Linked DNA regions of Homo sapiens: all the other regions are linked to region 2. The links come from fine-mapping of genetic effects on gene expression. A gene starts in region 2. Each other region holds a variant in brackets. All regions are shown on one strand. Distances are from middle to middle.

The links. PIP is the estimated chance that this variant, and not a neighbour inherited with it, causes the effect.
Region 1: its variant is fine-mapped to the expression of CUL4A in whole blood (TOPMed, PIP 0.98).
Region 3: its variant is fine-mapped to the expression of CUL4A in whole blood (INTERVAL, PIP above 0.99). The same link has a PIP of 0.9 or more in macrophages and monocytes after LPS.

The regions. Positions count from the first base shown.
Region 1 is chr13:113,154,568-113,165,074 of GRCh38, reverse strand. It overlaps PROZ (protein Z, vitamin K dependent plasma glycoprotein), which reads right to left and starts at 6,427. Exons shown (of 8, transcript NM_003891.3): 1 at 6,345-6,427; 2 at 4,898-5,061; 3 at 4,103-4,127; 4 at 1,953-2,066; 5 at 431-562; 6 at 1-22. The coding sequence starts at 6,414. It overlaps LOC124903216 (a long non-coding RNA gene), which reads right to left. Exons shown (of 4, transcript XR_007063880.1): 1 at 10,210-10,507; 2 at 9,960-10,018; 3 at 9,195-9,258; 4 at 8,465-8,545. It also overlaps a transcript of PCID2 not described here. RefSeq lists enhancers at 5,213-5,790, 6,367-6,944. The variant C/GC (reference allele first, on the strand shown) is at 4,801.
Region 2 is chr13:113,205,144-113,215,650 of GRCh38, reverse strand. It overlaps CUL4A (cullin 4A), which reads right to left and starts at 6,038. Exons shown (of 20, transcript NM_001008895.4): 1 at 5,876-6,038; 2 at 5,563-5,678. The coding sequence starts at 6,023. PCID2 (PCI domain containing 2) reads left to right here and starts at 6,982. Exons shown (of 14, transcript NM_001127202.4): 1 at 6,982-7,052. The coding sequence starts at 7,017. RefSeq lists silencers at 5,543-5,782, 5,843-6,172, 6,273-6,542, 6,803-7,092 and enhancers at 6,627-7,276, 7,277-7,927.
Region 3 is chr13:113,266,727-113,277,233 of GRCh38, reverse strand. CUL4A (cullin 4A) reads right to left here. Exons shown (of 20, transcript NM_001008895.4): 20 at 10,126-10,507. It also overlaps the pseudogene LDHBP1. Among named protein-coding and RNA genes, the nearest start is that of MIR8075, 9.1 kb to the right of the region's middle. RefSeq lists enhancers at 1,506-1,800, 2,753-3,252. The variant C/A (reference allele first, on the strand shown) is at 4,341.

The DNA of each region.
Region 1 (10,507 bases), 51 kb after region 2:
AGCACCCCGCAGGCACACTGGTCTGCATTTGCGGCAGCAACATGAGAATAAAAATCAGCGCCTTCTCAGCGAATATCGGACTCTGTCTATGGTGTTAACCGTTGCATAATTCCGTCTATGGTACTAACCATTATAATCTTATCCTTAATGCTGATGAATGTGCAGTAATTCACAGACACACAGACTGGAGTTAAACCACCCCTCACAGCACTCATGGTTTAGCTCAGAGTGGTCCGAGCAAGCACTAGTGACAGAAACTGCACTTTCTAGCATGGCCATTGCTCCAGCGTGGAGACGCGGACCACCTTCTGAGTCGTGGCAACTGCTTATCACAAATCCGCGGGCTTCACCCAGTACTACAGAAGGAAGGAGGATGTGGACGGGGTCGCTGGCATTGGAAGCTGGAGGCCGCTGTGGTCTGAGCACTCACCGTGGGGCACACACTGTTTGTGGTCCTCACCAAGCCTGTAGCCCTGAGCACAGCTGCATGTGTAGGATTCCTGTCCTGGGAGGCAGAAGTGTTGACACCCATCAGTCCGCTCTGGGTGACATTCATTTTTAGCTGAAAAGGAAAAAAAAAAAAGGAAATGCTAGCTTGGAAATAGTCATTTTATCACAGCCTTGCACACAGTTCTGTGTGTTGGTCCATGTTCATTTTATCACAGCCTTGCACACAAGAGTTCTGGTGTGTTGGTCCATGTGTTCTCATTCTCTTCAGATCGTTGTCCTCTGTGTCAGTGTTTCCCACATGTCCGTATTTCAGGAATGTGCATGTAGAACAAAGACTCCGTGAGTGAGGCCGGGCGCGGTGGCTCATGCCTGTAATCCCAGCACTTTGGGAGGCCGAGGTGGGCGGATCACGAGGTCAGGAGATCAAGACCAGCCTGGCCAACATGGTGAAACCCCATCTCTACTAAAAATACAAAAATTAGCCAGGCGTGGTGGCGCGTGCCTGTAGTCCCAGTTACTCGGGAGGCTGAGGCAGGAGAATCACTTGAACCCAGGAGGCAAAAGGTTGCAGTGAGCTGACATCGCGTCACTGCACTCCAGCCTGGCGACAGAGCGAGACTCCATCTCAAAAATAAAATAAAAATTAAAAAAAAAAAAAGACTCCATGAGTGATGACACTTCTATTTGTCCTTTTTCCACATGGACTAATCCACGCGCCTGTTTTGTCTGCCGGCTTGCATTGGCTATTCCCTTTAAATTGCTGCTTCTTCAAGGAGGGGACGTGGGATGGGAGGGGGTTAGTGTGACATCGGTGGTGGCTGAGCAGCTGGGATGGGGGCTTTCCACCAAGAGGGAGAAGATTAAGAAAGGGGCACATGGTGGGTGAAGGTCAAAGCCCCCTTTGGTACGTGGTAAATTTGGGGTGTCTGTGAAGGCATTAGCTGGGGCATCAAGGAGGCAGATGGAGCAGAAATCTGGACTTCGGAGGAGAGGGCTCGGCTGGGAGGAAGGTTTTCCCCAGAGAAACGGGCTCCAAGTTGACCAGTGGTGCTGAGAGCGGAGCACGCTTGTTGCTGTAGTTGGCGATGATGGACACTGACATTTGGCGGGTATTTAAGGATATTTGTTTACGTGCTTTGCGTCTTCCCTGTCTGCAGTCTCCCACTGGGAGTCTGGCACTGAGGACGCCTGTGTGTGACCCCCCCAGCCTGTGAGCAGATTGTGAATGGTTGAGGTGGTGGGGGGAGGAGAGGGGCCCCTGCTATGAAAAGTATGGGGGCCTGTCTGGAAGGGGCAGCTCAGAATGCAGCCAGCCCCCGGCGTGGTTTCTGGAGGAGAATCTGGTTGGGATGAGAGGAATCCCCTGGGGTGAGCCAAATCGCGGTTCACACAGGCACCTTCATGGCTACACCTCAGGAGGGGCCCATTGGGACTCTGGCCGAGGATGTGAGGCCCACCTGCCCAGGGAGGCCCTTGGGGGAAGGGGACGGCCGGGGCCTCACCCAGCTCGCAGTTGCTGCCCTCATAGCCGGGGGAGCAGGTGCAGGTGTAGCCCCAGATGCTGTCCTGGCAAGAGCCGTTGTGGAGGCAGGGCTGGGAGATGCACGGGGAGCCGCCTGCAGGAGGAGGATGGGGGTTGGGGTGGTGGTGACAGGAACGGGGACCTGAGCAGGAGGAGGGTGGGGGTGGTGACAGGAATGGGGACCTGAGCAGGAGGAGGATGGAGTGGGGGGTGGCAGCAGGGACGGGGACCTGAGCACCTGAGCAGGAGGAGGGTGGGGTGACAGGAACAGGGACCAGAGCAGGAGGAGGACAGAGTGGAGCAGGGACGGGGACCTGAGCAGGAGGAGGATGGGGGGACGTGGCAGGGACGGGGACCTGAGCAGGAGGAGGATGTGGGGAGGTGGCAGGGACGGGGACCTGAGCAGGAGGAGGATGTGGGGAGGTGGCAGGGACGGGGACCTGAGCAGGAGGAGGATGTGAGGAGGTGGCAGGGACGGGGACCTGAGCAGGAGGAGGATGAGGGGACGTGGCAGGGACGGGGACCTGAGCAGGAGGAGGATGTGGGGAGGTGGCAGGGACGGGGACCTGAGCAGGAGGAGGATGTGGGGAGGTGGCAGGGACGGGGACCTGAGCAGGAGGAGGATGTGGGGAGGTGGCAGGGACGGGGACCTGAGCAGGAGGAGGATGTGGGGAGGTGGCAGGGACGGGGACCTGAGCAGGAGGAGGATGAGGGGACGTGGCAGGGACGGGGACCTGAGCAGGAGGAGGATGTGGGGAGGTGGCAGGGACGGGGACCTGAGCAGGAGGAGGATGTGGGGAGGTGGCAGGGACGGGGACCTGAGCAGGAGGAGGATGTGGGGAGGTGGCAGGGACGGGGACCTGAGCAGGAGGAGGATGGGGGGACGTGGCAGGGACGGGGACCTGAGCAGGAGGAGGATGTGGGGACGTGGCAGGGACGGGGACCTGAGCAGGAGGAGGATGTGGGGACGTGGCAGGGACGGGGACCTGAGCAGGAGGAGGATGGGGGGAGGTGGCAGGGACGAGGACCTGAGCAGGAGGAGGATGTGGGGACGTGGCAGGGACGGGGACCTGAGCAGGAGGAGGATGTGAGGAGGTGGCAGGGACGAGGACCTGAGCAGGAGGAGGATGTGGGGAGGTGGCAGGGACGGGGACCTGAGCAGGAGGAGGATGGGGGGAGGTGGCAGGGACGGGGACCTGAGCAGGAGGAGGATGTGGGGACGTGGCAGGGACGGGGACCTGAGCAGGAGGAGGATGGGGGGACGTGGCAGGGACGGGGACCTGAGCAGGAGGAGGATGTGAGGAGGTGGCAGGGACGGGGACCTGAGCAGGAGGAGGACGGGGGGGCAGGGGGTGGCAGGAATGGGGACTGAGCCTGCTCATGCTGCTCCCCATGCCATCGCCTGGCCCCCAGGACGCTCCCCGCTCCGGATGTAAGGCCTGGCTGCCAGTGCCTCCCACTCTGCTGGGTGCCCTTTCTTCGTCCGCACGCGGTCCCCTCTGTCCCGCCCCATCAGCCCTTCTCCGGCCTTCCCTGCCTCTCCCGCTTCCTTCTGTGCCCAGTTGTCCCCGTGCTTGTCTGGTGGTGGCTGCAGCTCTTTGCTTACTCATTCCCAGGTGGGTCCTTACCCTGGCCTCCCCCAGCCCCGTGGGTCTCCATCTGTGTTACTTCTGTCCCATGCTCTTCTGCAGTTGCCCACCTAGAGCTCCTCCCTTGGGAGGAGTCTCCTAACCAAAGTCTCCATCGGGGCCATGACTTTCCAAAATTTGAGACGAGTTCTGACCCTGCTGCAGCATGAGGCTTCCCAGGAGCCCAGGAGCCAGGCGGCTGGAGGAGCTGCTCTGGGGGGGCCCTCCTGGCCTGTGGCCCATGTCCCAGAGTGCCAAGAAACTACCCAGACACTGGGCAAGACAAACCAGGCACTGCCTGTGGCCCTGGTGGCAGAGCCCGGGGGCTTCCTGACCTGGTCCTTGGGGAGAGTCGGAGCTGCCCTTCCCTGGAGAGACACCGTGGGTCCTGGAGCCAGAGGCTTGGCATCCGCTGAGCTGGGGTCGTGAAGCGTCCTAAGCCCACCCACGCACCTCATCCCGAGGAATTAATACTTCTGAGGAGACGAAGGAAACCACTTACCCTTATATCGTCTCCAGAATTCATCCTTTAGAGTTAAAACATAAAAATGTTACAAATGGGATATTTGTTTTTCTATATTCTTTCCTGTAGATGAACTTGAAGGTAAGAAAATGTTGATTTTATTCACTTAATAGGACAATAGTGGTTGAAACAATGCACAATTTTCCTGTTTTACAGCCTATTTGTTTATGTTAAATGTATAGTAACTAAATGTATCTGTAAGATATATTACTCAACATGTGCTTACCACCACCTATTTGAGGAAGGCCAGAGTCTATGACATGGCACAAACCCACCACCCACAGCCCCTAACGTGGCCCTTCCCTTCTAGGGCCAATCTCCACGCCACCCTCCACAAAAGCACATGATATAGAAGTCACATCACCTTTTCGCTTTTTATAAACCGAGTTGAATTTTAAAGATATATACCTCTGTAGGGAGTGGGGACACTTAGTTTGGGGTAGGAGTATCTAAAATTAGGAGAATTATTCAGACTTGAAGCCTAGAAAGAAAATGTATGCTGGGTGTCTGATCAGTGTGTGGGCCTTGCCTGACCTGAAGAAATGAGTCCAGTGGGCTCTGAGCTGACTTCCAGCCCCACTCACTGCTGTAGGGAAAGGTGGATTAAGTCGATTCTCTAAATTGTTTCCTCATCTGTAAAACTGGGATTGTGTCAACCTCATCGGTAAGTAAATAGG[C/GC]TAATTAATTAAGCTTAATCTCTGAGAAATGATGCTCCCTGGGCCAGCAGAAGTCTAAATAATGAGGAGGCCTGTGGTTTGTGGTGGGGGTACATACAGTGACTACTTCATTTTCAAACACTTCTCTTGCTTCTTCATAGACACAGATTTCTTCATAACATTCTTTTTCCAAGTTTCCCTCGAAGAGTTCTTCCAGAAGATAGGAGCCCGCACGCTTCCACCTCACCAGAACGTCGTTTGCTTTGGAGGCCGGGAGAAATACTACAGACGAGACAAGAAGGCAGGTGACTGGGAGCACCGAGGGCCCTGCTTTCCAGAGCTGCCTGGCTTCCTCCCCGGCCGGCCGCCAGCCCCAGCCCCGTCCGTCTCCACAGGCTCTCAGCCTGCGAGGGCCTCAGGGCCACCCCGCTACTCCCTCCCCCGAGGTAGGCAAGCACTTCATCCTCTGGGCGAATGGATCAGCCCCAGGATCAGTGCGGATACACTAAGGTTCTGCAGAGAGGCCACGGGCCTCAGTCAGGAAAGTGGAGGAGGGAGGGCTCCAACTGGGTTTTGGGTCTGAGTGCGAAGGAAGGCTGAGCTGGGGTCAAAGGTCCCCGTACTGAGAACTGGGGACCAAGAGCCATCAGCTCCTGTGCTGCCTCTGTGCGCAGCATTTAACATCTTGATAAAACACATAAAGAAGAAACTTATACATTGCAGCAGGCTCTGCGATTTCCAGGAGGAGAAGGCAAATGAGTTGACCCGCGGCAGTGGTCTCTGGAGCCTCTTCCCACCTGAGGGTCCCAAAGCATGTTCTCTCCCTCTCCGGGAGGGTCAAAGCCCAGGCCCTTCCCATCCTCCCTCCTTTTCTCTCGGTGCTGAGGGTTACAGCAGGGGGGGCTCAGCTAAGTCCGGCTACGGTAAGTGCTGGGCAGGGCAGGGCGGGGGGATCACCCTCTCAGGGTGGGAGACCATGGGGCCAGCGGGAGACCATGGGGCCAGCGGGGATGCTGGGTGTTTTGACTTGCAGCTTTCCTGGACGCCTGTGCAGGCAGAGTCAGAATGGAGTCCATGTCGTTCCTTCAGTGAAGTGGCTGGTGGTAGAAGGGTGGCAGGCAGGCAGGGTGGCTGCTCCCTGGCTATGTCTCCTGACTCAAGACTGGGCATTCCTGGCTGGCCTGGCCAAGGCTCTCTCTGCCCACATTGCAGTCTGGGCTCAGCCTGCCCCACCCCCTCCCCTCGTCCAATGCCCAACCCAGGCCTCCCCCCACTCCTCCCCCTTTCCCCCTCCCCTCTCCCCGGCCTTTCCCGGCTGAATCCCCTGCACACAGGCTTCTTTCCATTTGGGCATCTCTTGGGAGGACCCCAAGTGACACTATCATGTCCCAAATACTTGTCACCAAATGATAAAGATCCAAACAGCTTTTTCAGGGGAATTAAGACTAGTCTGGGCACTCAGGGCTCCTCTGGCTCCTGGAAAAAGCCTCATCTACAAATCCACCATGGACCGAGTCAAGAAAGACACAGCACAGGCACAACAGACAGGTAAGCCAGATGCCTACCTGAGGGCTCCACACGATGGAGGGCGAGGACCAGGACCAGGCCCTGGAGCAGTGGGACGCAGCCTGCCATTCCCACCCGGAGCGCTGGGACAGGGCTACAAACACAGCCAAAGTCCAGGCTGGGGGAGGTGCCGGCAGCAGGAGCCTCGGGGCACGACCTGTGCAGCTGTGTGCTTCCCTCCTGACGTTTTCTGTTTGAGGCCAGGCAGAGAAATGAACGGTGAAGGCTCAGAGGACCCTGGGAGATATTTAGGGAGACAGAGAACAGAAGGTAAAGGCAGCAGGTGCAAGGTGGAAGGTGGCACCCATGCCCGTGTGTGGTCAATGGAGGTGAGATAGGCCCTGGGGACACAGCACTGGGCGGGACAGACAAAGTCACATGCAGCTTACGTTCTAGGTGTGTGTGGAATACACAGAAAAGAACGAGGGAAAGAGACAGGAGGGAGTGAGGGAGGGAAAGCAGGAGGATGGAAAGAAGGAAGGGGAGAAAAGGAAGGGAGGGAGGGAGGAGGGAGAAAGCGGGGAAGGGCCAAATAGTGTCTGTCACTACAGCTCAGCACCATTGTAGCAGAGGCAGCATAGACAATCATGAATGAACACTTGGCTGTGTGCCAATAAAGCTTTATTTATAAGAGCTATTAAGGGGCCAGATTTGGCCCCAGGGTTGTCGTTTGCTGCTTTCAGATGTAGGCCCTGTGTATTAGTCCCTTCTTACACTGTTATGAAGAAATAGCCAAGACTGGGTAATTTAAGAAAAGAGGTTTAGTTGACTCCCAGTTCCACATGGCTGGGGAGGCCTCAGGAAACTTATAATTATGGCAGAAGGCACCTCTTCACAGGGTGGCAGCAGAGAGAATGACTGAAGCAGGGGAAATGCCAGATCCTTATAAAACCATCAAATCTCTTGAGACTCACTCACTATCCCAAGAATAGCATGGTGGAAACCACCCCCATGATTCAATTACCTCCCACCGGGTCCCTCCCAGGACACGTGGGGACTATGGGGATTACAATTCAAGATAAGATTTCGGTGGGGACACAGCCAAACCATATCAGCCCTTGAAGCCTGAGGTAAGAACCTGGTGTTTCATTTTCACTGTGTTGGGAAGATATTGGAGGGAACAGGAATTGACATGGAAAGATTTGTGCTCTGAAGGGATCACTGGGCTGCTGTGTGGAGAACAGAACATTCCAGAGAAGTCAAAAGGGAGGCTGCCGGCTAGTCCAGGAGGGGGTGAGGGTGCAGCCATGCAGCAGGAAGCACGTTTGCAGTCTGGATGCTTCAGGAAGGGAAAGCTGATGGGATTCATGATGAATTGTGTCGGGCAGCACGGCTCCAAGGTTTGGGCTGAGCGATTGGGAGGATGGCAGTGCGTGTGCTGAGACGGCCAAGCTCCAGGAGGGCAGAGGGAAGCGAGGTTTGGCAAATTTGAGGTGTCTGTGGGATGTCCAGGTGGAGACAGGAGTGGGCATCCGAGAAGCTGGGACTCACAGTGGAGATTCAGGTGGTAACAGATGAAATGACAGCATTGTCAGCATATAGATATTGTTCGATTGAATGACACTCAAAGGTGGCAAAACTCAATGAAAGGATTCTAAATACAATTTTGTTAAAGTGGGAACAGAAGAAAACTAAGAAGCTGACACCCTTGATTAAGAGGGCATGCCCGCAAATACACTGAAGTTGTGAAGTTTGCTTTAAAAAGCTGGGAAAAGAAAATAAAGTTTATCTTTAGTGAGTGAGTTAAAATAATTTGAAAGCCAGAAGTTGATTGTATAGGATAGCTCTTGGGTGAATTGCACCAGCCTGGCAATCTACGTGGCCTTCACTTAAGAAAAGGTGCCTTTTTTTGTGTGAAAATGTATTCCCACATGGAAATTTACATTAAAAATACTTCTGCTGGATAGTTTAAAAACCATCAATAGCTGCCTAAAAATGGAAAGGCAGACAGGGACATACACATTCGATCAATAAGTGTTAATTAAGCACATCCTATATGCCTGACATGGGTATCTGAGCTACAACCTCTTCCCTCATGGACCATTTTAGTCTGTTGGGGCTGCTGTAACAAAACACCTTAGAGTGGGTAATTTACGATAAACAGAAACGTAGTGCTCACAGTTCTGGAGGATGGGAAGTCCAAGATCAAGGCTCCAGTAGACTCAGTGTCTGGTGACGGCCCATGATTCATAGACGTGTCCTTGGATGGTGGAAGGGAGGAATGTGGGTGCTCCCTGGAGCCTCTTTTGGGAGGGCAGTCATCCATCCATGAAGGCAGAGTGCCTCCCAGAGGCCCCACCTCCTAGTACTATTGCACAGGGGGTTAGGTTTCAACGTGAGTTTTGGGGGATGGTTTGGCTCTGTGTCCCCAACCAAATCTCACCTTGAATTGTAATAATCCCCACAGGTCAAGGGCAGGACCAGGTGGAGGTGATTGAATCATGGAGGTGGTTCTTGTGATAGTGAGTGCATTCTCACAAGAGCTAATGATTTTATAAGGGGCTTCCCCCTGTGATTGACACACATTTTCTCTCTCCTGCCACCCTGTGAAGAGGTGCCTGCTTGCCATGATTATGTTTCCTGAGGCCTCCCCAGCCATGTGGAACTGTGAGTTCATTAAACCGCTTTTCTTTATAAATTACCTAGTCTCAAGTATTTCTTCACAGTGACATGAGAACAGACTAATACAGGAAGGCATCAACATCGAGGCCACAGCTGTGATTGACTGTGTTGTACGTGGACTGACCGTGTTGTATGTGGTGATTTAATTTTCTCATCTGCCTTCTCAAAGATACCACCTTTGGACCAAAAATTCTACAATAATAAATTGTCCAAACATTAAGATTCACCTCGTTCTACTCATCTTCCTCATCTCTCATATGAATAATCGTTCTTCTGTCACCCTCTTCTGTTCTGAAAAACAAACCAACCAACATTGGGACACTTTTTCCATTGACTGGTTTACTTTCCTTCTGTATACCTGAGGAGAATCTTCCTTCCTTTGGGGTCTTTGTCGTGTCCTTCAGATGTTGGGGTGTCCTCTGTGGGGGTCCCCAGCTTAAATCAACTGACCCCACAACTTTGTGTGGAACCTGAAATGAGCAGCCTATGGAGAACCTGGTCATTGAATACTTAGATCTTGCCGCAGTCCCTATTTAAATACCTGTTCAATCAACTCTGGGACCTATGTTTTAGATTTCAACATCTCTGAATTGGCCTGTTCCCTACAGCCAATGTTCTAATGTCAGCCTGGACAAGGCCGAGTTCTTCCTGAAAGGGGTTGTGCTTTATGTTGCCCCCTGGGGGCACTGCCACTTTGCAATCCCTTTAAATACATTTTTTTGTGTGAGTTTTGGGAGCCCATGTGAATAGTGTAAATGTATTGCAAAGCTGGTTCCTGGCTGGCCTGTGGTTTAGATTATCTGAGCTTCCCCCTCTTGCCTCCAGGCTGAGCTGACCCACAGCTAATTTGGGTATATGCTCTTTCTTTCAGGTTCATCAATAATGGTGCGTCTTAGATTCACAGAGTAGAGTGTGGTCTAGTCCACTTTGTGGTGCTGTAACAGGATATCTGAGACTGGGTAATTTATAAAGAACAGAAATTTATTTCTTACAGTTCTGGAGGCTGGGACATCAAAGGTCCAGGGGCCCCCATCTGGCGAGGGCCTTCTTGCTGCGTCATCCCATGGTGGAAGGTGGATGCGCGTGAGAGAGAGAGAGAGAGAGAGAGAGAGAGAGAGAAAGGGGAGAGAGGAAGGGGGCCAAACTCATCCTTTTATTCCAAAATAACGAACCCACTCCTACAATAGTGGTATCAATTCATTCACGTGGGCTCTGACAATGAATGCGTCTTAAAGGTCCCACCTCTCAACACTGTTGCCTTGGGATTAAGTTTCCAACACGTGCACTATAGGGACACATTCAAACCACAGCATGCTGCATCCTCTGATGTCCACATTGTGGATGGAGGTGGCAGCTTATCACCTGGAGCTCCTGAAGAAATTAAAGAGGAGACACATGGTGACGCAGCCCACAGCCTGGCGTTTTTAGCATCTCAGAAGCACTGACAGGGACCCGCAAGCTTATGAGAAACTGTTCAACTCATTGGGCTTCCTCAGAGCTTGGGAGACCATTAATGTGGAAGACACTATCTGGACATGTT
Region 2 (10,507 bases):
GATGAAACCTCCATAGTCACACAGAGATCTCCACAGCCACACGGGACGTGACCTCCACAGTCACGCAGAGACCTCCACGGCCACATGGGACGTGACCTCCATAGTCACAAAGAGACCTCCACAGCCACATGGACGAGACCTCCATAGTCACACAACAACCTCCATAGTCACATAGCGACCTCCATAGGCACACAGTAACCTCCATGGTCACACAGCGACCTCCACAGCCACATGGGACGTGACCTCCATAGTCACACAGCGACCTCCACGGCCACATGCGACGTGACCTCCATGGTCACAGAGACCTCCACAGCCACATGGATGAGACCTCCATAGTCACACAGCGACCTCCATAGTCACATAGCGACCTCCATAGTCACACAGCAACCTCCACAGTCACACAGCGACCTCCACAGCCACACGGGATGTGACCTCCATACTCCCACACAGACCTCCATAGCCACACGGACGAGAGAGACCTCCATAGTCACACAGCGACCTCCACAGCCACACGGAACGCGACTTCCATGGTCACACAGTGACCTCCACAGCCACACGGGACGCGACCTCCACAGTCACACAGCAACCTCCACAGTCACATAGACAAGACGTCCACAGCCACAAAGGACGAGACCTCCATAGTCACACAGCAACCTCCACAGCCACACAGACAAGATGTCCACAGCCACATGGGACGTGACCTCCACAGTCACACAGCGACCTCCACAGCCACACGGGACGAGACCTCCATAGTCACATAGCTACCTCCAGAGTCATATAGCGACCTTCACAGCCACACAGGATGAGACCTGTGTGGCTGTGGAGGTCCCATTCCTACGCTGGGCCTGCAGCTTGGGTGTGAGGGAAGGATGCCACCTAATACAAAGGACTAACCTCTCTCTTTCACTGACCATTATCACCTGGTATCAACATGTCATGAAGACAACTACTCCGTGACTCAAGAAAGACAGCCTGGCTTTCCTCAGAACTTGCATGTCAGCCGGGTGCAATGGCTCACGCCTGGAATCCCAGCACTTCGGGAGGCCAAGGCAGGAGGACTGTTTGAGTCCAGGAGTTCCCAAGGAGCCTGGACAACATAGGGAGGCCACACCTCTCTCTCTCTTTTTTTTTAAAGGGCCTGAGAGGTTTGTTTTTGTGCAACAAAAAACAAAAAAACCAGTTCTAAATCAAAACACAGCCTTTCTCTGAAACCTTTCTAGAAATGCAGTCTTCAGTTTTCTGTTGTCTCATTTAGCAACAAGCAGGACTAAAACATAGAGACACAAGACACAGAAGATGCACTTTCTTCAGGAGTTAGTTATTACAGACCGAAATTCAGGTCGTTCAATGGAAAAGATCCATGCCTTCACAACATTCTCCTCTACACACTACAGGAGGAAAATGATAAAAACAAAGTAACAAACAGAAACAACAGGCCAGCTGAGGCCCAAAAAGTGTAAGTGACAGGACTCCTAAGGTGTTTAGACGTAGAGGGAGAGTGAGCAAAACCAAAAACCAAACACGAAACCAAACCTTTCAAACTTGGGTGAGAATTGGTCCTTTCACATAAGATTCTTTGGCAAAGTATACACCACCCCACCTATACAAAAACTGAGACTTTATTTTGAAACACCAAGTCAAATGTATTGCCTGCTTGATCAGACATCAGTAATTTCACATTTGCTTTTCTTAGATTTCTATCCCATTTGCTTCCAATAGATCTGAGGCAGCTCATGCTTCAGACTCTGTGAGAGGCCAGAAGCCCACCTGTGCGTGGAGAGATGATCACAAGTAAGTGAATCAACTGATTCCACATATCCCCTGGTGGGGCAGCACCTCCAGAGATGCCCCTGGAATTTGCGATGTCTCATTCCAAGGAGGAACCAGTGACTGTCATTTTGGGGTAAGCACTCCTAGTTCTCAGGGTTTCAAGACAGACACCTAAGGCACCTACAAACATTGTTCATAATATCTAGTGATTGTTTTATAAGACATATCACTGTGTACAAGGTGTTGCAAAGTAATTCCGCCTTTTTAAGTAAAAATAATGAGGCAGCAGATATCAGACAGCCAAATCTCCAGGAAAAGAGTAGTAAGAAGCTTTAGCTGTAAGGTATCATATTTTATTAAACCAAAGACCTCTGAGAGTTCAGGTGGGACTCGTTTCTAGTCAAGACACAGTACAAGAACTGTATTAACTTTCTGCCTGAAATAACCACAAAATCAGGCAAAATATACGAAGCAACAGTTTTCGAAGCACTGAGTACTGGGCTATGAAAGACAGTGAATCTCAGAAAGATGGGAGACAAACAGGCCCCAACTGCTCAGCTTCCTGTGTGAAGAGCTTCCAGGTTGTGGTGTGGGGGCCCTGAGTAGCTGGGACTACAGGCATGCAACACCCCACTAGGCTAATTTTTAAATTTTTTGTAGAGATGGGGTTTCACCATGTTGCCTAGGCTGGTCTCGAACTCCTGGGCTCAAGCGATCAGGCCACCTCAGCCCCCCAAAGTGCTGGGATTACAGGTGTGAGCCACTGAGCCCAGACTCTCAATACTGTTAAGAATTTAATTCTCCTACATTGATCTGTAGATTCTATATACCGTCAATCAAAATCTTAGCACACTTTCTTATACAAATTGGCCGATTCTAAAATTCACATGGAAACACAAGGGACCAAGAATAGCCAGAAACCTGTGCAAATGTATGAAGCTGGGGGGCCAACACACCCTGATTTCACAACTCACTCCTCCTACTCCTACGTGGTTTTTGACAAAGGAGCAAAGGCAATTCAGTAGGGGAAAAGAGACTGAAAAACTGGACATTTGCAGGGAAAACACTGACTCTAGACTTTTCTTTGTATTTTTTTGAAATGGAGTCTCACTCTGTTGCTCAGGCTGGAGTACAGTGGCACAACCTCGGCTCACTGCAACCTCCGCCTCCCGGGTTCAAGCGATTCTCCGGCCTCAGCCTCCCAAGTAGCTGGGATTACAGGTGCCTGCCACCACGCCCGGCTAATTTTTTGTACTTTTAGTAGAGATGGGGTTTCACCATGTTGGCCAGGCTGGTCTCAAAATCCTGACGCTCAGGCGATCTACCCACCTTGGCCTCCCAAAGTGCTGGGATTACAGGCATGAGCCACTGCACCCGACTCTGACTCTAGATTTGTATTTCACAATATATACAAAAATTCACTCTACATAGATCGTAGACCTAGATGTAAAACCTAAAACTCTAAAATGTCTGGAAGAAAGTATAAGAGAAAACTTTGTGACCTCAGATTAAGCAAGATTTCTTGGATACTAAAAGCACAATCCATAGAAGAACAAACTGATACATGTGACTTGAAAACTTAAAACAATTACTCTTCAAATGGCACAGTTAAGAGAATCAAAAGACAAGTTGAAGACTAGGCAGAAAGTATTTGCAAGGCGAATATCTGATACAGGACTTGTATCCAGAATACATAATAAACTCAAATACTCAATAATAAGAAAATAACCAACCCAATAAAAATGAGCAAAATATTTAAATAGACACTTCGTCAACGAAGATACATAGAATGGCAAGTAAATACAAAGATGCTTAGCATCAGAGGGAAATGCAAACTAAAACTACAATGACACTCCACCACACACCCACAAGCACAGCTAAAGTTACAGACTGAGGACACCACACGCTGGTGGCGGAGTGGAACTGGAGCTCCCATACACTGCTGGGAGAGACGCACACGCTGGTGGCGGAGTGGAACCGGAGCTCCCATACACTGCTGGGAGAGACGCAAAAGGGGCAGTCACTTGCAAAAACAAGAAATTCCGTACAAAGTTAAACATACATTTTCCATATGACCCTGAGAACTTACTTCTAGATAAAGAAGTAAGCAGAACTCACCTGAGAGGAGTAAGAATATATGTCCAAACAAAGGGTTATTCACAAATGTTTACAGCAGCTTTATTTAAAACAACCCAAGGCCAGGCGCGGTGGCTTATGCTGGTAAACCCAGCACTTTGAGAGACCGAGGTGGGTGGATCACCTGAGGTCAGGAGTTTGAGACCAGCCTGCCCAACATGGCGAAACCCCGACTCTACTAAAAATACAAAAATTAGCCAGGCGTGGTGGCAGGTGCCTGTAATCCCAGCGACTCGGGAGGCTGAGGCAGGAGAATCGCTTGAACCTGCGAGGTGGAGGTTGCAGTGAGCCAAGATCGTGCCATGGCACTCCAGCCTGGGCCACAAGAGTGAAACTCCGTCTCAAAGAACAAACAAACAAAAAACCCCAAACATGGACACCCAAATGTCCATTAACTGGTGAATGGATAAAACAACTGTGGTATACCCATTCTACTAGGTAATAAATTACAATCACACTGCGTTGTGCATGAATCTCAAAAGCACTGTCCTAAGTGAAAGCCAGATACAAAAGACTATGAAATACATGACTGCATTTAGATAAGGTTCTAGAAATCGCAAAATATAGTAACAGAAAGCAAATGGGGGACCGCCAAGGGCTAGGAGTCAGGGGAGAGGGCTGACTGCAAAAGTGGTCATGGCAATTTCGGGGGTGGTAGCAATATTCTACCATTCTACCAAGAAAGATTCCATCTTGACCGTGGTGCCGGTTACGTAACTGCATGCATCTGTTAAAACTTCCTGAAGTGCACATTATATGTAGACTCTATCTCAAAGCTGGTAAGAAAACATCATCCACTTACACTTCAGACAAAGAATGGATGTATGTACACCAAACTGTCAACAGTAGTTTTCTTTGGGTGGTAGGAGTATAGGTGATTGAAGTCTTCTTTTTTGTATTTTTTATAATTTTTACAATGCAGTCACTTGCATATCCAGAAAAAAAGTTTTTTTAATTCAAGCCTTTTAATAGAAATAATTGTATGACACATCGTGACCTAAAATATAGATATTAGACTACTGAATGAATGTTACTTTACAAAAAGAAGACACCAGAAAAAAAGTCGCTTATAAATAAAATATCCAAGTATGGTAAAATGTACTTTTTTGTTACTTCAGAAACGGAACACCATCACTTTGAATTAAATGCTACCAAATCTGTTTGAATACCTTAAAGGCAACCACTAATCACAAAACACAACAGAGAACAAAACCACTTTTTCTGAATTTTGAATTTTTTCAAAATCTGTTTGAATATCTTAAAGGCAACCATTAATCACAAAACACAACAGAGAAAAGACCCTCTTATTACTGTGGCAAGTGACACAGTCATGAGTTTTACATATAACGAGAAAATAATTTGCCGTATACTTGCAAAATATGAGTCACGTGGCTCCTAGAAACACACCTCCTTCTCTTCCGTAATGGGATAACTTTAAATATGGTTCTAAGCAGCTTAAGCCTGAAAACAAAAATTCCACCACGGCAATAAACAAAACCACTTGTTGCCTCTGGGGCTCCCGGCCCTGCAGTGGAGGCAAACGCCCTGCCTTTCCGCTCCCCGGCGAGAGCCTGCGAGGCACCCGGAGCGGCCGCCCGGCCGCGTCTGCGTCACGCGGGGCAGGAGCGGCGTCCCCAGCCCCGGCCGCCGCCTCACCTGGTAGAGCTCCTCGAGGTTGTACCTGATGGAGGTGCTGCTCTGCACGGCCCGCACCGCCTCGTGCAGCTTCCGCCACGTGTCCTGCGTGTAGTTGTCGGGCAGCCGAGGTCTGTCTGCAGGGCGGAGGGAGAGCGGGCGGCTCAGGGCGCGCCGCGAAGCGCCCCGCGTAGCCACCCCCGACCCGGCCGGCGCCCCGGCGCCCCCGCTCCCGGGGCCCGCACGGATCTCGGGGCCTTCCCCCCAAGTCGGGCGGGGTCTCGTGGGGTCCCCGCCCGGGGCGCCTGGCCCTCGACCCGGCCGCCGCACCCACCTCGGAAGTTCTTGATGACCAGCTTCTTGGAGCCGCCCGCGCCCCCCGGCTTGGCGGGCGCGGCGGCCAGGGCCGCGGGCTTGGTGAGGCCGTTGGTGCGGCCCACGAGCGCCGAGAAGCTGCCCTTCCGCGGGGCCTCGTCCGCCATGGCTGGGCCGGAACCGCCGCGCCCCGCCCCGAGCGCCGCCGCCCGCCGAGCTCCGCTCCGCCCGCCCCGGTCCGCGCGGCCTCCGCCCCGTCCTCCTCGCGCGCCCCGCCCCGCCCCGCCCGCGTGCCCGAGCCCAACCGCCGCCGCGCCCGGCTACTCCTGAGGGCTTAGGAACGCGCGCCGGGAATCCCTCCTGAGGGATCGGACTCCCCCTAAGAGATTCGGACACCCCCTCCTGGCTCGAGGGCGCGCGCCGGGACTCCCGTCCTGAGGGATCGGGACCCTCACCCCCGGCTCCGGGGGGCGCACCGAGACCCTGCCCCCAGGGCTCCGGGCACCCCCTCCTGGCTCGGGGATGCGTGCCGCGGGCACCCCTCCTGAGGGGATCGGGAGCCGGGACACCCTCCTGAGGGCCCCGGGGCGCGCGCCTCCTGAGGGCTCGGCACCCCCACCCCGGGCGTGAGACCACCTCGAGGGCTCAGGGGTGCGCGCCGGGACGTGCCCTAACTCCTGCAGGCTCGGGAGCGCGCGGCGGAGGCACCTTATGAGAGCTCGGGAGCGCGCGCCATGTCCCTCCCCCTCCCCCTCCTCGGGCGCGCGCGCCCCGAGGCCCTGGCCCAGCCAGGCGCGGAGGGTCCTCCGCGGCCTGGTTTTCACAAGGGGCAGACGAAGGGTCAGCGCAGTGAAAGGCAGTTTAGCCGTGGGGCTGTCCTCGCCACTGGACCCCAAACCCCTCAGCCCGGGCGGGCCCGAACACACAATCAGAGCCGCTGGCGTCCCGGCTGAGAGGACGGGGCCCCGGCAGAAAGACCCCGGGCCCCCTCAGCCCGAGCGCGTCGCCGAGCCGGTCCCCAGGTTCTCCCTCCGGAACCAACCTGCGCACCCGCGGCGGGGCCGGGGGCGCCAGGACCCAGACGGACCGAGGGCCGGAAGTGACGCCAGCTGGCCCGCTTGAGGCGTAGGGGGTGGCGCTCTCCGTTCGGCGGCGCTCCCATGGCGCACATTACCATTAACCAGTACCTGCAGCAGGTGGGTCCTAGCCGGGGAGCGCGCGGCGGCGTGGTTGGCCCTCGGCGTGTTCCGTGTGTCCCCTCCTGCCTTGGACCCTCAGGCCTTTTCCTTTCCCGCCTCGCCACCCTTCTTCCGTTCGGGTCCCCGGCGGGCAGCCGCGCGAGCCGAACAGCGGCGGCCGGGACTCGGGAAGGCGGCCCGAGTTCTCCCCTGCAGGGCCGCCGTGGGGGCCGGGCGGTGTCCGTGGATCGCGGAGTCGTCGCGGTGTAAGTAGACGCGGCGGTCCCAGGTCGCTGCCCTCACTTGCTGGCACGTGTGGCCGCGCTCCCAGGCGGTCCGAAGGGCCTGCGGGCCACGCCGAGGGCCCGCTGTGGGCGGTGCTGTGTCGGATGGACGCTGTTTCCCAGCAGGATGCGGGATGAATTCGGGGACTCCAGGAGGCGATGGAGGAGTAAGCGCGAGGCTGTGGCCGTGCTGCAGGCCGGGCTCGTGCCCCTCGTCCTCGCTGTCGTTTAACGCCCTTCACTCTCCGAGCACAATGCACACTTCATATCGCTCGGTACATGCGTCTGACAGATGTTGTTCAACAGCTTGTAAGTAGCAGAAGCACAGTTAAAAGATGGACACTTGTAAAGATTCAACGCATATTCTTTCCACTAAACTATGCCTGTCTTCAGAACCAGCACTGTGGTAACAGGGATAGGAAATATAGGGAATGGATTTTTAAAATATTTGAAGGAAACATTACCAAGACGTGGTGAATAAGAATGGGTGGGCTGAGGGACACGGAGGAGTTAAGAATGATTCCCAGGCTTGTAATCTGGGAAAAAGATGAATAGAGTGGATTTGGAGGGAGAAATAAAGTTTTGGGCATGTTGAGTTTGAGGTGTCTGTTGACAACTGGGTAAAGATACGTACTTGATAGCTGAAAAGTCTGACATGATTGGGCCCAGCAGTTGCTTGGTTAATTGAGAAAACTGGTTAAAACAGGAATCACGAAGAAATGGATGTATGTTTTTAACTTAAAACATGAAAGTATACATTCACTTGCCAATTTTTTTTTTACACCACTTACCTCAAGTTCTATACTTGCCAATCTTTTGATGTAAGCCCAGGGCCTTTTCTTTAGGCTGTGTCTGTTTTGGCCTAATCTTAGCAGACTTAACATTTTCCAATATCAGTTTATTTAAAGTTAAACAAGGATATAGGCATTTAAGAACCAATTTGATACGATTATCTTTAGAATTTTCTTAATCTTTTACAATTTTTCCCCCATACCTAATTATTTTTTTAACAAACTCAAGTGAGCCTTTTAAAAACATACAACTTAGCTTATAGAGAAACAACTGTTTCCTTTTGCATTCATATTTCATTGATGAGCTTAAAAGTACATAACTACCATAACAGGTTCGGGTAGCAAAAATAGATTTGAGAACAAACACATCTGGATATGAGAACACATACAACTTAGCTGGCAAAAGCTTGCGATGTATTAGAGTGAAGCCTACTTGCTGAAAGTCGTCATCATACCTTGGGCATCAGCTCGTGTATTTCAGGGAGGGATTGGAGAGAGTCATTTTTCCAATTCAAGTCAGTTAAAGTGAGACTGATAAGCGAGCTTCTACTCTATGTGTGTAAACTGAAGTTTAAACAGACAGATTTGGGTTAAAGATACAAACCTGAGACTCCTTCGTAGTCACATGATGGGAAAGACTGAGAAGGGAAGGGGTGACCCAGGGAACAAGTAGAGAGAGTAGACAGGGGCTGGGCCCAGGATGGACTTCTATGGAGATGTGCATGCCTACATCTCCGCAAAGGGCAGTGTAGCCACTGGGGTGAGACAGCAAAAAGTCCGCTTCCTCCTAATTCTGATGGATAAAAATATTTCTGGTTGAACTGGCATGTTACCTAAGTTTTATGTATTAACAGATTCTTGAATATTTTAAGAAAATAGGTGCCTCTTCGATACAGAATGGCAACCGGTTATACATGGTAACACATGTTTGATTTGTTGTATAGGAACATAAGTGCCAATGTCACTGTATCTCTTTGGGAATAAAACCATCATTTGCACATTCATCAAAGCTAGGAAGTTGGGGGAAATCATTGACTCCTCCTTTAGTCTCAGCAAATAGTCCTTTACCTAATTGGATGTATCTCCGAAGTCTCTCAGATCCATCCCTTCTTTATCTGTTGCCACATGCTCCCCAGCCAGGACGCCCTGCTGCAGGTACTGGTTGATGGTTTCCTTTACTTTGCCCTTTCCAAGTGAGACACAGCAAAGAGACCATAGACTTTAAAGACAATAAGACTTCAGCCCAAATCCTGGCATTTTTACTAATTCTGGGACCATGACAAGTTATCTAACTTCTGTGACTCTCCATCTCTAAACAGGCTTCACATAAGTTGTGAGAATTAAAAAGACCATGAATTCACAGTAAATGCATTTACTTAGTAAATGATAGTTCTGGTATTTTATTGAAGAAGAGTTGAGCATCTGCCTCTGTTACTAAAACTTCATTGACTCTCTGTTTCCTCCAGGGAAAGTTCCAAATGCTTTAGCACATCATCTGGTCCATGTTTACCTGTTAACTTGGCATCACCAGTCTGAAGGTTTATTTCACTTATGCTGAATGCACCATTGCCCCACCGAAGTACTCATAACTTAAAATATACCATTTAACCATTTTAAAGTACACAATTAAGTACATTCACAATATTGCACAACCATCACCATTATCCAGAATTTTTTGTCACCCCAAATGGAAATGTCATAAGCATTAAGCAGTCACTCCCTGGTCCTCCCTCCCGAGCGCTTGTCAACCGCTAATGTGCTCTCTGTCTGTATGGATTTGCTGACTCTGGTGATTTCAGTATGTGGCTTTTGTGTGTCTTTCCCTTGCATCATGTTTTCAGGGTTCATCTGTGTTGGAACATGTGTCAGTGTGTCGTTCTTTTTTATGGCTAATGATATTCCATTGTATGGAGTATTTTGTTTATCCATTCATCAGTTGATGGACCACTTCAGTTGTTTCCTCTTTTTGGCTGTTGTGCTGCTGCTGTGAACATTCTTGCGCAGGTTTTGTATTCTTTTTGGCATATACCTAAGAGTGGAATTGCTGAGTCATATGGTAATTCTGTGTTTAACTTGTTAAAGAAATGCCAAAGCAGCTAGCTGCATCATTTTACATTTTCACCAGCAATGTATGAGGGTTGCAATTTCTTCACTTTCTTGTCAATGCTTGTTTTTTTCCATTCTTTTTATTATGGCCATCCTGCTGGGTGCGGAGTGGTATCTTCTTGTGGCACCCCATGATCTTTCTTGTCCCAAAGATTTTCTTCATTATGTTCCTTTTGCCAAGAACACCTCTCTTTTTTACAGGTGTAGTGAACATCTTTATTTAGGGAATCAGCTTTGAGTTAGATACTTTACTCCTTAATCTTCAGTAGTTCTTCATATTGTCTTTCAAGAG
Region 3 (10,507 bases), 62 kb before region 2:
GTAAGAATGTGCACTGCATTGGAAACCTCAATTATGATGCAACCAAGCTCTCTCTGTACCAGGTTGAGATGACTGTCTCACTCTTTTGTTTTTAGACGTAGTCTCGCTCTGTTGCCCAGGCTGGAGTGCAGTGGCGTGATCTCGGCTCACTGCAACCTCTGCCTCCTGGGTTCAAGCAATTCTCCTGCCTCAGCCTCCTGAGTAGCTGGGATTACAGGAATGCGCCACAACACCTGGCTAATTTTTTTTGTATTTTTAGTAGAGATGGGGTTTCACCATATTGGCCAGGCTGGTCTCGAACTCCTGACCTTGTGATCCTCCCATTTTGGCCTCCCAAAGTGCTGGGATTACAGGTGCGAGCCCAGTGGTCACAGAGTCATCTTTATCTGCCATAATTTTAGGTGTCTGAAGAAATAAGCTGCCATCTGCAGATCCACCATGCCACCTTTACACTGATCTTCCGTAGCACGCACAAGAGCAAGCTCATCAGAGACCTTCCCAGAGGCAGAGAGCACGCGCCTCACCAGCTTCTCCAACACGCCCACAGTGATCTGCTTGTTTGGGACCTGTTGCCCCTTCTGCAGCTGGTGCAAGGAGTCTTTCCTTAAGAAATGCCCTTGTGCCCAGGAGAGAGTAGGCTCTGGAAACTGCTGTAACAGTTGTACAGAGAAGACAATGCCAGCTGCGTGCGTCTCGTGGTCTTTCTTCATCCTTTAACTCATCTGTGTCTTTATTAAAATGACTCTCTGGGCTGGGCATGGTGACGCACGCCTGTCGTCCCAGCAGTTCTGGAGGCTGAGGCAGAGGATCCACTTGAGCCCAGGAATTTGAGACCAGGCTGGGCAACACAGTGAGATGTCATCTCTACAAAATATAAACAATTGGCCAGTTGTGGTGGCGCACACTTGCTACTCAGAAGGCTGAGGTGGGAGGATTGCTGGAGCCTGGCAGATTGAAGCTGCAGTGAGCCGTGATTGTGCCACTGCACTCCAGCCTGGGTGACACAGTGAGATCCTCTCTCTTGAAATAACAGTGCCTTTGTAGTAGACAGCATATACTTTGGTCTTAATTTTCTATACAGCTTGAAAATCTTTGGCATTTAACTGGAGTGTTGTTTATGTCATTGTTACCAATAAATTAATGAGATGGTCAGGTTCAAGTCCACCCTCTTTCCATTTCCATTTGTCCTATCCGTTCTTTATTCCCTTTTAAAAGTGAATTTCCAGGCCAGGCGCGGTGGCTCACGCCTGTAATCCCAGCAATTTGGGAGGCAGAGGCAGGCAGATCACGAGGTCAAGAGTTCGAGACAAGCCTGGCCAACATGTTGAAACGCTGTCTCTACTAAAAATATAAAAATTAGCTGGGCATGATGGCGGGTACCTGTAGCCCAGCTACTCGGGATGCTGAGGCAGGAGAATTGCTTGAACCCAGGAGACAGAGGCTGCAGTGAGCCAAGATCACATGACTGCACTCCAGACTGGTGGCAGAGCAAGACTCCATCTGAAAAAAAAAAAAAAAAAGAATTTCCTGTCTGCCTTTTGTAAAACAAACATAAAATTCAAAGCCCCCTCAGACCATCTGAATGGACCGCTGTATCAGGGAGGGCATTTCCAAGGCTAACCTGAAGGGCTGGCTCCGGCCATGATGGGGGCAGGGGTCAGACATGACTCATGATACCGCCTTTTGGAATTATTGATAGAACAGACTCTTTAAGCCTCATGAGAATCTGTTCCCTCTGAAGCCTGCCACCTGGAGGCTGCATCTGCATGGTGAAAGTTTGGTCTCCACAGCCCCTTATTATAACCCAGACATTCCTTTCTGTTGATTCCAGGTCTTTAGATAATAACTCTTTCAACCAATTGCCAATCAGAAACATTTTAGATCTACCTATAACCTGGAAGCCTCCCACAGCCCCTGTTCCAGACCAAACTAACGTACATCTTACATGTATTTGATTGATGTCTCATGTCTCCCTAAAAATAAATTAGTCTGTGTCCTGACCACCCTGGGCACATGTTCTCAGGACCTCCTGAGGCTGCGTCATGAGCCATTGGTCACTCATACTTGGCTCAGAATAAATCTCTTCAAATATTTCACAGTTTGACTCTTTGTCAACACTTTGGATTGAGTGTTCTTTCAAATTATACTTTGTCTCCTCTGTTGGCTTGTTCTTTCTCTCTTTGCCTCTCTCTCTGGTATTGTTAGTGGCTGCCCCAGGGTTACCACACACATCTCTGGCTCATCACACTCACTAGACCATCTCCCCTTTCCCCCAGGGCTGTCACACACATCTCTGGCTCATCACACTCACTAGACCATCTCCCCTTTCCCCCAGGGCTGTCACACGCATCTCTAGCTCATCACACTCACCAGACCATTTCTTTCCCCATTCTTTGTGTCGTGTCATTCGTTTTACTTCTACATATGGTATTAATGCCAACATATATTATTTTTGCTTTCAACAGTTGTTTTTAAAGAAAATAATGATTGTGTAGCTAATTTGTGTGAGTGTCTACCCAAATGCTTGCAAGTGCGGGCGCTCCCCAGGCCTTCGGCAGACCCTGGCTTCTATCTGGCTTTGCTTTCCAGCAGCTGAAGCTCCTTCCTCCTGCACTTCTCCTACTAGAGGTCTCTGTCTGAAAAGGCATACTTTGCCTCCATTCAGAAATGTATGTTCACTGAATACAGACTTCCCAGCTGACAGTGTTTGCTTCAGCTCTTCACTAATGTTTCTGAAGATAAGCCACTTAGATTTGTATGGAACTGGGTTTTCCTGATGAAGAGGCACTGTGCTTGTGCGTGACTGTGACTCATTCCTCTTTGCTGGTGTGTAGTACGTGTCCTAAGCAGCTTTGTGTGTGTTCACTTGGAACCACCCCATGAGGTAAGTAGGATTATTATCTCCACTTATAAGAAAACCAAGGTTTAAAGAATTGCAGGAATTTGCTCAGGGGCACCTGGAGAGTGACAGATGGAGGACCTGGCAGAGGGGGGACCTGGCCAGTGTTAAAGCTTCTCTGCTGATCCCAGTGCCTTGAAGGTGCTGTTCATTCTGTGAAGAGTGGACTCCTGGCAGGCGTCCACTTCTCAGTACAATGCTCCCTCAACTTGTGCTGCAGTTGGCCTTGGTTCCTCCATCACGGACCACAGAAAGCCTTACCTCTGCTCGGCTGTCCGCCCCTCGGCTTCCTTAGGACCTCTGCCGGGGGAGCACACTGCGCGGGGATGTGGTTTCCCTGTTCTGTTCCCTGGGAGGAGCACGCTGCGCGGGGATGTGGTTTCCCCTGCTGTTTGGGAAACCTGCCCGCAGTTATTTCTCCTTTCCGTATGCTCAGATTCTCCCCTTTTCTCTCTTGCTTGCTCAGTTTGATGCTTGCTCAATTCTCATTACCCGAGAGCAGCTCTCCCTGGCCTCTGCCTTGCCTCCAGCTACATCTCGCCGCACCCACTACCCGTCGGGCCCAGCACACAAACTGAATGGCCCGAGATGCCACCGTGATGGTCTGTTTCTGATTCTCACCATACCTTAAAACTCCCTTCTTTTGTTCTGTCACACTCGTACTTCTCCCCATTCTTATCTTGCTGGTCTTTGTTCCTTCCACTGGCCCTGCTTCATTCACTCCTCAGTGTTTACTGAGCACTGTGCACCAGATGCTATAGACTTGGGGACAGGCTTGTGCCTAAAAACACGACTTCAGAAGCCTGACGAATGGGGGCCCAGATCACAACACACGTGCTTGAGCTTGAGACCTGTCTTAAAGAAAAAAAATTGACAACTCTCTGAGGCACTAGTTCAATTTTTTTCTTGACGGCATCTAGCGCTGTTGCCCAGGCTGGAGTGCAGTGGTGCCATCATGGCTCACTGCAGCCTTGACTTCCTGGGCTCAAGCAATCCTCCCACCTCTGCCTTCTGAGCAGCCAGGAGTATAGGCATGTGCCACCACACCTGGCTAATTTTTATATTTTTTTGTAGAGATGGGTTTTCACTATGTTGCCCAGGCTGGTCTTGAGCTCCTAGGCTCAAACAATCTGCCCACCTTGGCCTCCCAAAGGGCTGGGATTATAGGCTTGAGCCACCGCGCCCCACTGGTGTGTAATTTTAATCCTAACATCATTTGCCTGATGTGCAGGAAGTCAGTACACTGAGACACTGGGGATTGCAGCAGAGACGGAGCTTAACACCCAGAGGGGAACTGAACAAGAGACAGAGGAAGCCTTGAACGCGCCTCTCAGAGGAGTTTGGGGCTGGGGATTTTAAGGGTTTCGGAGTGGCCGAGGTGTGGGAGTTGCTGATGGGTTGAAGAGTGCAGGCTAAAATCATGGGATGGGGGGATGAAGAA[C/A]CTGCATTCTCATGCCGCCTCAGCGCCCTGTGGGAGCCTTTGACTGGTTGATGTCAGCTGTTCTGCTGGAATTGAGGATCTGAAAAACATATTAAGCAATGTTTAAAGCCTTATGGTTCTAACGTCAGTGGTCCTATCTATGAGAATAATGGGGGTGCAAATGATCAGTATCCAGGGCTACAAGACTTCCAGTTACAAGGAAGTGGGCCAAAGTGCAGCCTGATTCATGCTTAGTTATGACTCCATTTCTGCCCAGAACCCGGCGTGTAATTCCTGCTAACCCATTGAGGACAGTTTGAGGTTCAAGAAGATATTCTAGAAATAAAATAAAAACAATTTTTTATTAAAAAGAAAAATAAGAAATAATATAAAAACATAAAACAATCTTTTATTAAAAAGAAAACCAAGAAACAATAATCTGATAATAGAGGCCACCAAGAGAAAAGCTAACCAGAAACAAAGATGGACAGTGAACTATGAGTGGGGAGGGGTGAGGCCAGCCCTTCTTCTCATTAGACCTTCCAGTTGGTTTACTTAGAAAGATTAGTGCTAAGGAAAGTGACAGCAAAGAAGTTGAAGGGGAAGAGGCAATGTAGAATGTCAAAAAAGAACACTTCCTGGAACAGAAGTCCGGAGTCTTCCAGTCTGAAGGCTCAGTGGGTGGCTGGCAGAGGCCAAATGAAAGTGGACACACACCGAGACACTCTTGTGAGATACCAAAAGTCCAGGAACAGAAGATTCCAAAAGTGACATGAAAGAACTACAGGTTAGTTAACAAAATGGCATCAGACTTTAGAGCTAGAAAATAGAAGACTATGGCAGTGCAATCCCTTCAAAGTTCTGAGGGAAAGTGATTTTGAGCCTAGAGTTTTTATGTAGACCAACAATCAAACACAAGTGTAAAATAAAAACAGTCCAGCCAGGATTCAGGAAATTTGTCTCCCAGGCATTCTTTCTGAGAAGATCATTTAAGAATCTACCTAATGAGGCCCGGCACAGTGGCTCACGCCTATAATCAGCACTTTGGGAGGCCGAGGTGGGTGGATCACCTGAGGTCAGAAGTTCGAGACCAGCCTGGCTTTTTCTCTACTGAAAATACAAAAATTAGCTGGGCGTGGTGGCGTGTGCCTGTAATCCCAGCTACTCAGGAGGCTGAGGCAGGTTAGGAGTTTGAGACCAGCCTGGCTAAATGGCAACACCCCATGTCTACTGAAAATACAAAAATTAGCTGGGCGTGGTGGTGTACCTGTAATCCCAGTTACTTGGGAAGCTGAGGCAGGAGAATCGCTTGAACCCAAGAAGCAGAGATTGTAGTGAGCTGAGATCGTGCCACTGCACTCTCCAGCCTGGGCAACAGAGTGAGACTGTCTCAAAAAAAAAAAAAAAAAAAGAATCTACTTAATAAAACCAGAAGACAAGAAAAAGAGAAGACTGAGATCCAAGGAGTGGAACTACACAGGAATGCAGAGAAAATGGGTTCCAGGATCACAGCTATGCAGGGGCTCAAAAGCCAAATGATGTGGCCGGAAGTAGGGGTGCATCGAATTGTGCCTGGGAATGGCCAGGGCACTCTACTCTGGCCTGGGAAACACAGTGAGACCTCGTCTCTTAAAAAAAAAGAGGCAAATGATTCATTGTATTATTATTATTATTTGTATTTTTAGTAGAGATGGGGTTTAACTATGTTAGCCAGGATGGTCTCAATCTCCTGACCTCATGATCCGCCTGCCTCGGCCTCCCAAAGTGCTGGGATTACAGGCGTGAGCCACTGCGCCCAGCTGATTCATTGTATTATTTATATTATTTTTATTTATTAATTTATTTTTTGAGACAGGGTCTCACTCTGTCGCCCAGGCTGGAGTGCAGTGGTGCGATCATAGCTCACTGCAGCCTCAACTTCACAGGCTCAAGTGATCCTGCCACCTCAGCCTCCTGAGAAGCTGGGACTACAGGCAAGCACCAGCATGCCTGGCTAATTGTTAAATTTTTTTGTAGAGCTGAGGTCTGTTATCCAGGCTGGTCTCAAACTCCTGGCCTCCAGCAATCCTTCCACCTCAGCCTCCCAAAGTACTGGGATTATAGGTGTTAGCCACCATGCCTGGCCCATAGTTCAATTTAAAAAACTATTAGGCCAGGCGCGGTGGCTCACGCCTGTAATCCCAGTACTTTTGGAGGCCACGGCAGGCGGATCACAAGGTCAGGAGTTTGAAACCAGCCTGACCAATATGGTGAAACCCCATCTCTACTAAAAATACAAAAAAAATTAGCCAGGCGTGGTGGCACACGCTTGTAATCCCAGCTTCTCAGGAGGCTGAGGCAGGAGAATTGCTTGAACCCAGGAGGCTGAGGTTGCAGTGAGCCGAGATTGCGCCACTGCACTCCCGTCTCAAAACCAAAACCAAACTACTTATCCGAGGGCCAGGTGCCGTGGCTTACAGCTGTAATCCTGTCACTTTGGGAGGCTGAGGCGTGCAGATCACTTGAGGTCAGGAGTTTGAGACCAGCCTGGACAACAGTGAAACCCTGTCTCTACTAAAAATACAAAAATTAGCCAGGTGTGGTTGCACACACCTGTAATCTCAGCTACTCCAGAGGCTAAGGCAGGAGAATCACTTGAACCTGGGAAGCGGAGGTTGCAGTGAGCTGAGATTGCACCACTGTACCCGAGCCTGAATGACAGAGTGAGCCTCCATATAAAAAAAAAAACCACGAAAACCCCAAAACAACAAGAAAACCACTATTAGAGGATTCTGATAAATGATTTTTTTTTTTTTTTTGAGACAGAGTCTCGCTCTGTCACCCAGGCTGGAGTGCAATGGTGCAATCTCGGCTCACTGCAAGCTCATCCTCCTGGGTTCAAGCGATTCTCCTGCCTCAGCCTCCCAAGTAGCTGGGACTACAGGTACGAGCCACTACGCCCAGCTAATTTTTGTATTTTTTGTAGAGATGGGGTTTCACCATGTTGGACAGGCTGGTCTGGAATTCCTGACCTCATGATCCTCCTGCCTCGGCCTCCTAGTGTTGGGATTACAGGCTTGAGCCACCGTGACCAGCTCCGAAATGTGTGTTTTAAGAAAAAAATTGGGTTTATGCAAACTGTGATAAGGAAATTATCTTAGTGATAAGACAAAAGGCATCTTTTTTTTTTTTTTTTTTTGGTCATCAGTAGCAATTAAAAACTCCAGGAAAAAAAAAAGCTGGACAAAAATGCCATAGTGCAAATATAAAGCAAGTTAAAACATGACATACATTTTCAGCTTTAATGGAATGTGGAAAGAAATAGCTTGTCTTTGATGCTTAGAATATTCTTTGAGCTGCACAAACAAAGGATTACATTTCTCTTTTTTTTGAGACAGAGTCTCGCTCTGTCGCCCAGGCTGGAGTGCAGTGGTGCGATCTTGGCTCACTGCAAGCTCTGCCCCCCAGGTTCAAGTGATTTTCCTGCCTCAGCCTCCCGAGTAGCTGGGACTACAGGCGTGCGCCACCACGCCTGGCTAATTTTTTGTTTGGTAGAGACGGGTTTCACTGTGTTAGCCAGGATGGTCTTGATCTTCTGACCTCGTGATCCGCCGCCTCGGCCTCCCAAAGTGCTGGGATTACAGGTGTGAGCCACTGTGCCTGGCCTGCCAATACAGGAGGTTTTCATGAGAAACTGAGTATATTCATGGATCGAGAGAATAGGGTTTCAATATGTCCATTACAATTACAAAGGTAACCCATAAAATAACTGATGACAACAGTGGATTAGGTTGGGAGGAGAGCGGGCGGGGAAGTGCAATTACTTTGGGTTGGCTGATTCCTTGTGTTTTATGGTAAAGAAACAACACAGTGGGTGGGGCCATTTTGTTTTCTTAATAATTTGTCATTACTTTTAAACATTCTTTTGACACAAAATTAAAAAAATACAAAATGGTATATGCATAGAAAAGATTCTCGCATACCTGCTCGCAGCCTTCCAGAACTCCATTCTGGAGTTGAGCCGTCGTTATTCACACGTACACGGGCCGCACACACAGTGGTGGCAGGACGGCACTGCTCTCTTTTCTTACGTGGTATTTCTTGACACTCACTCCAAATGGACATCTAGATCTTGGTTCAAGCTGCATGGTCAGAATATCACACATGCATGGACTTAGCACATGGTCTGTTTCCTTATTGAAGGACATTTAAGGTATTTTCTGTGTGTGCGAGAACAGTACTAGAAATCATTCTACGTGAGTGAAAGGAACTTACTGGGTCAAAGGTGTGGGCATTTTCGAATTTAATATACCCTCACAAATTTACCTGAGAGACCATCATTTCACAATGTCTCAGATCCCTCGAGCTGACCTCCCTCACCAGAGCCCACCAGCCTGTCCCCCATCACTGCTGGGCCTCTCACTCTCACATGGCCCAACTGTCACCTCTGCCCCCTCCAGCCCTTTCTGAATTCAGTCTGTTGACAAAACCTCCATCTCCTAAACGTTCTTACTAGGCGGTCCTAACACCTGCACTCCTCTTCCCCTGAACTTCCCGGGCTGCTGCACAAGGCCTGGGCCTGGCCACTGCCTGGTTTCTCCTTCCAAACCCACCACAGGGTGCCCATGCCTCCGTGGAGGGGGCAGAGGCCCGCTGCTCACTTCGTGACCCTCCCCCTGGGGCTGCATCTGGGGCGAGGCCCTCCCTTCTGCCCATTGCTGCTTCCAGGCCATGCTCCTTCCATGCTGCTGGACACCCCGGCGGGGGTGCGCCCTTCTCACTGGCTGGCCCACCTCCAGGCCTCAGGGCTGTCCTGCACTCAGGGCCTCCATCACTGGCTCCTGTCACCGTCCCTGACTGCTGGACGACCATCAGGTCTTGTCTCCCATGCTCTGGCCCCAGTTCCCCGTCTGTCCTCACCCAGACCATCATTGCCAACAGCTGCGCCCTCCAAGCTTACCTCCTAAATCTTCATGTTACATGACCCCCCCACCCTCCAGCCTAGGGCCATGGTCACCGTCACAACCAATGTCTCCCCCGGCACCACACCTATGGCCAGCCCTCACCTGCCCCCACTCCCTGTGCCCTCGATCCTGCCCTCTCCTGGGATATTAGGGCCTTGCTGCAGGACAATGCCCAGTCACCTGCCACTGAAATGCAGCTCTGCTCCTGCGACCTCTTGGAGTCATTCTCAGCCGCTGTTCATCTGTTCTTGAAAGCAGGTCTGCCCTCACGGTACCCGTTTCCTCTGCTCCCACTCTCTTAAAGCTAATGAAGAACTCACTTATCCGAAGGCTTGTTGCTGGTCTTCTTGCTGACTTCTAGTTCTGTTAACATTAAACTCATCAGTACTTTGTCGTACATTTTATCCAAGATGGTTCCAGTTTTTTTTTTTTTTTGAGATGGAGTTTTGCTCTGTCATCCAGGCTGGAGAGCAGTGGCGTGATCTCAGCTCACTGTAAGCTCCGCCTCCCGGGTTCACGCCATTCTCCTGCCTCAGCCTCCCCAGCAACTGGGACTACAGACGCCTGCCGCCACGTTGGGCTTTTTTTTTTGTATTTTCAGTACAGACGGGGTTTCACTGTGTTAGCCAGGATGGTCTCGATCTCCTGACCTCGTGATCCGCCCGCCTCAGACTCCCAAAGTGCTGGGATTACAGGGATGAGCCATGGTGCCCGGCAAGGGTTCCAGTTTTTTTAACCTTGTTTTCCCCCATGTTGACTTTAAAAGATGTCATTTAATGTCAATCCTTTTTTAAAAAAATCGATGTGAATTCACTAGATCACTTAGTGGAAAAACACAAATAAAGGGGCAACGGGTCCAAAAATCTTAGAAAGGAGGACTATATTTTTCTTTTTCTGAGTTCTATTGTACAGCATGGTGAATACAGTCAAAAATTGAGTATTGTACATTTCAAAATTGCTAAGAGTAAATTTCAGATGTTCTCACTACAAAAATGTTAAGTATTTGAGGTGATGGATGTAACTAGCTTGACTAGTCCACAATGTATGCATAATTTATAAGATCACTTTATACTCTATAAATTTATACAATAATAGTCAATTTACAAAAAAAGTATCTTATGATTATGGTTTCATATATATGTATTTTTTTACACGTAAATACTTGACCACTTGGAACTTCCCTTAGTATAAAAAGGAGTCTAATCCAACTTTTCTCTTTTCAAGGTGGCCCAAACTTCTGAGCAT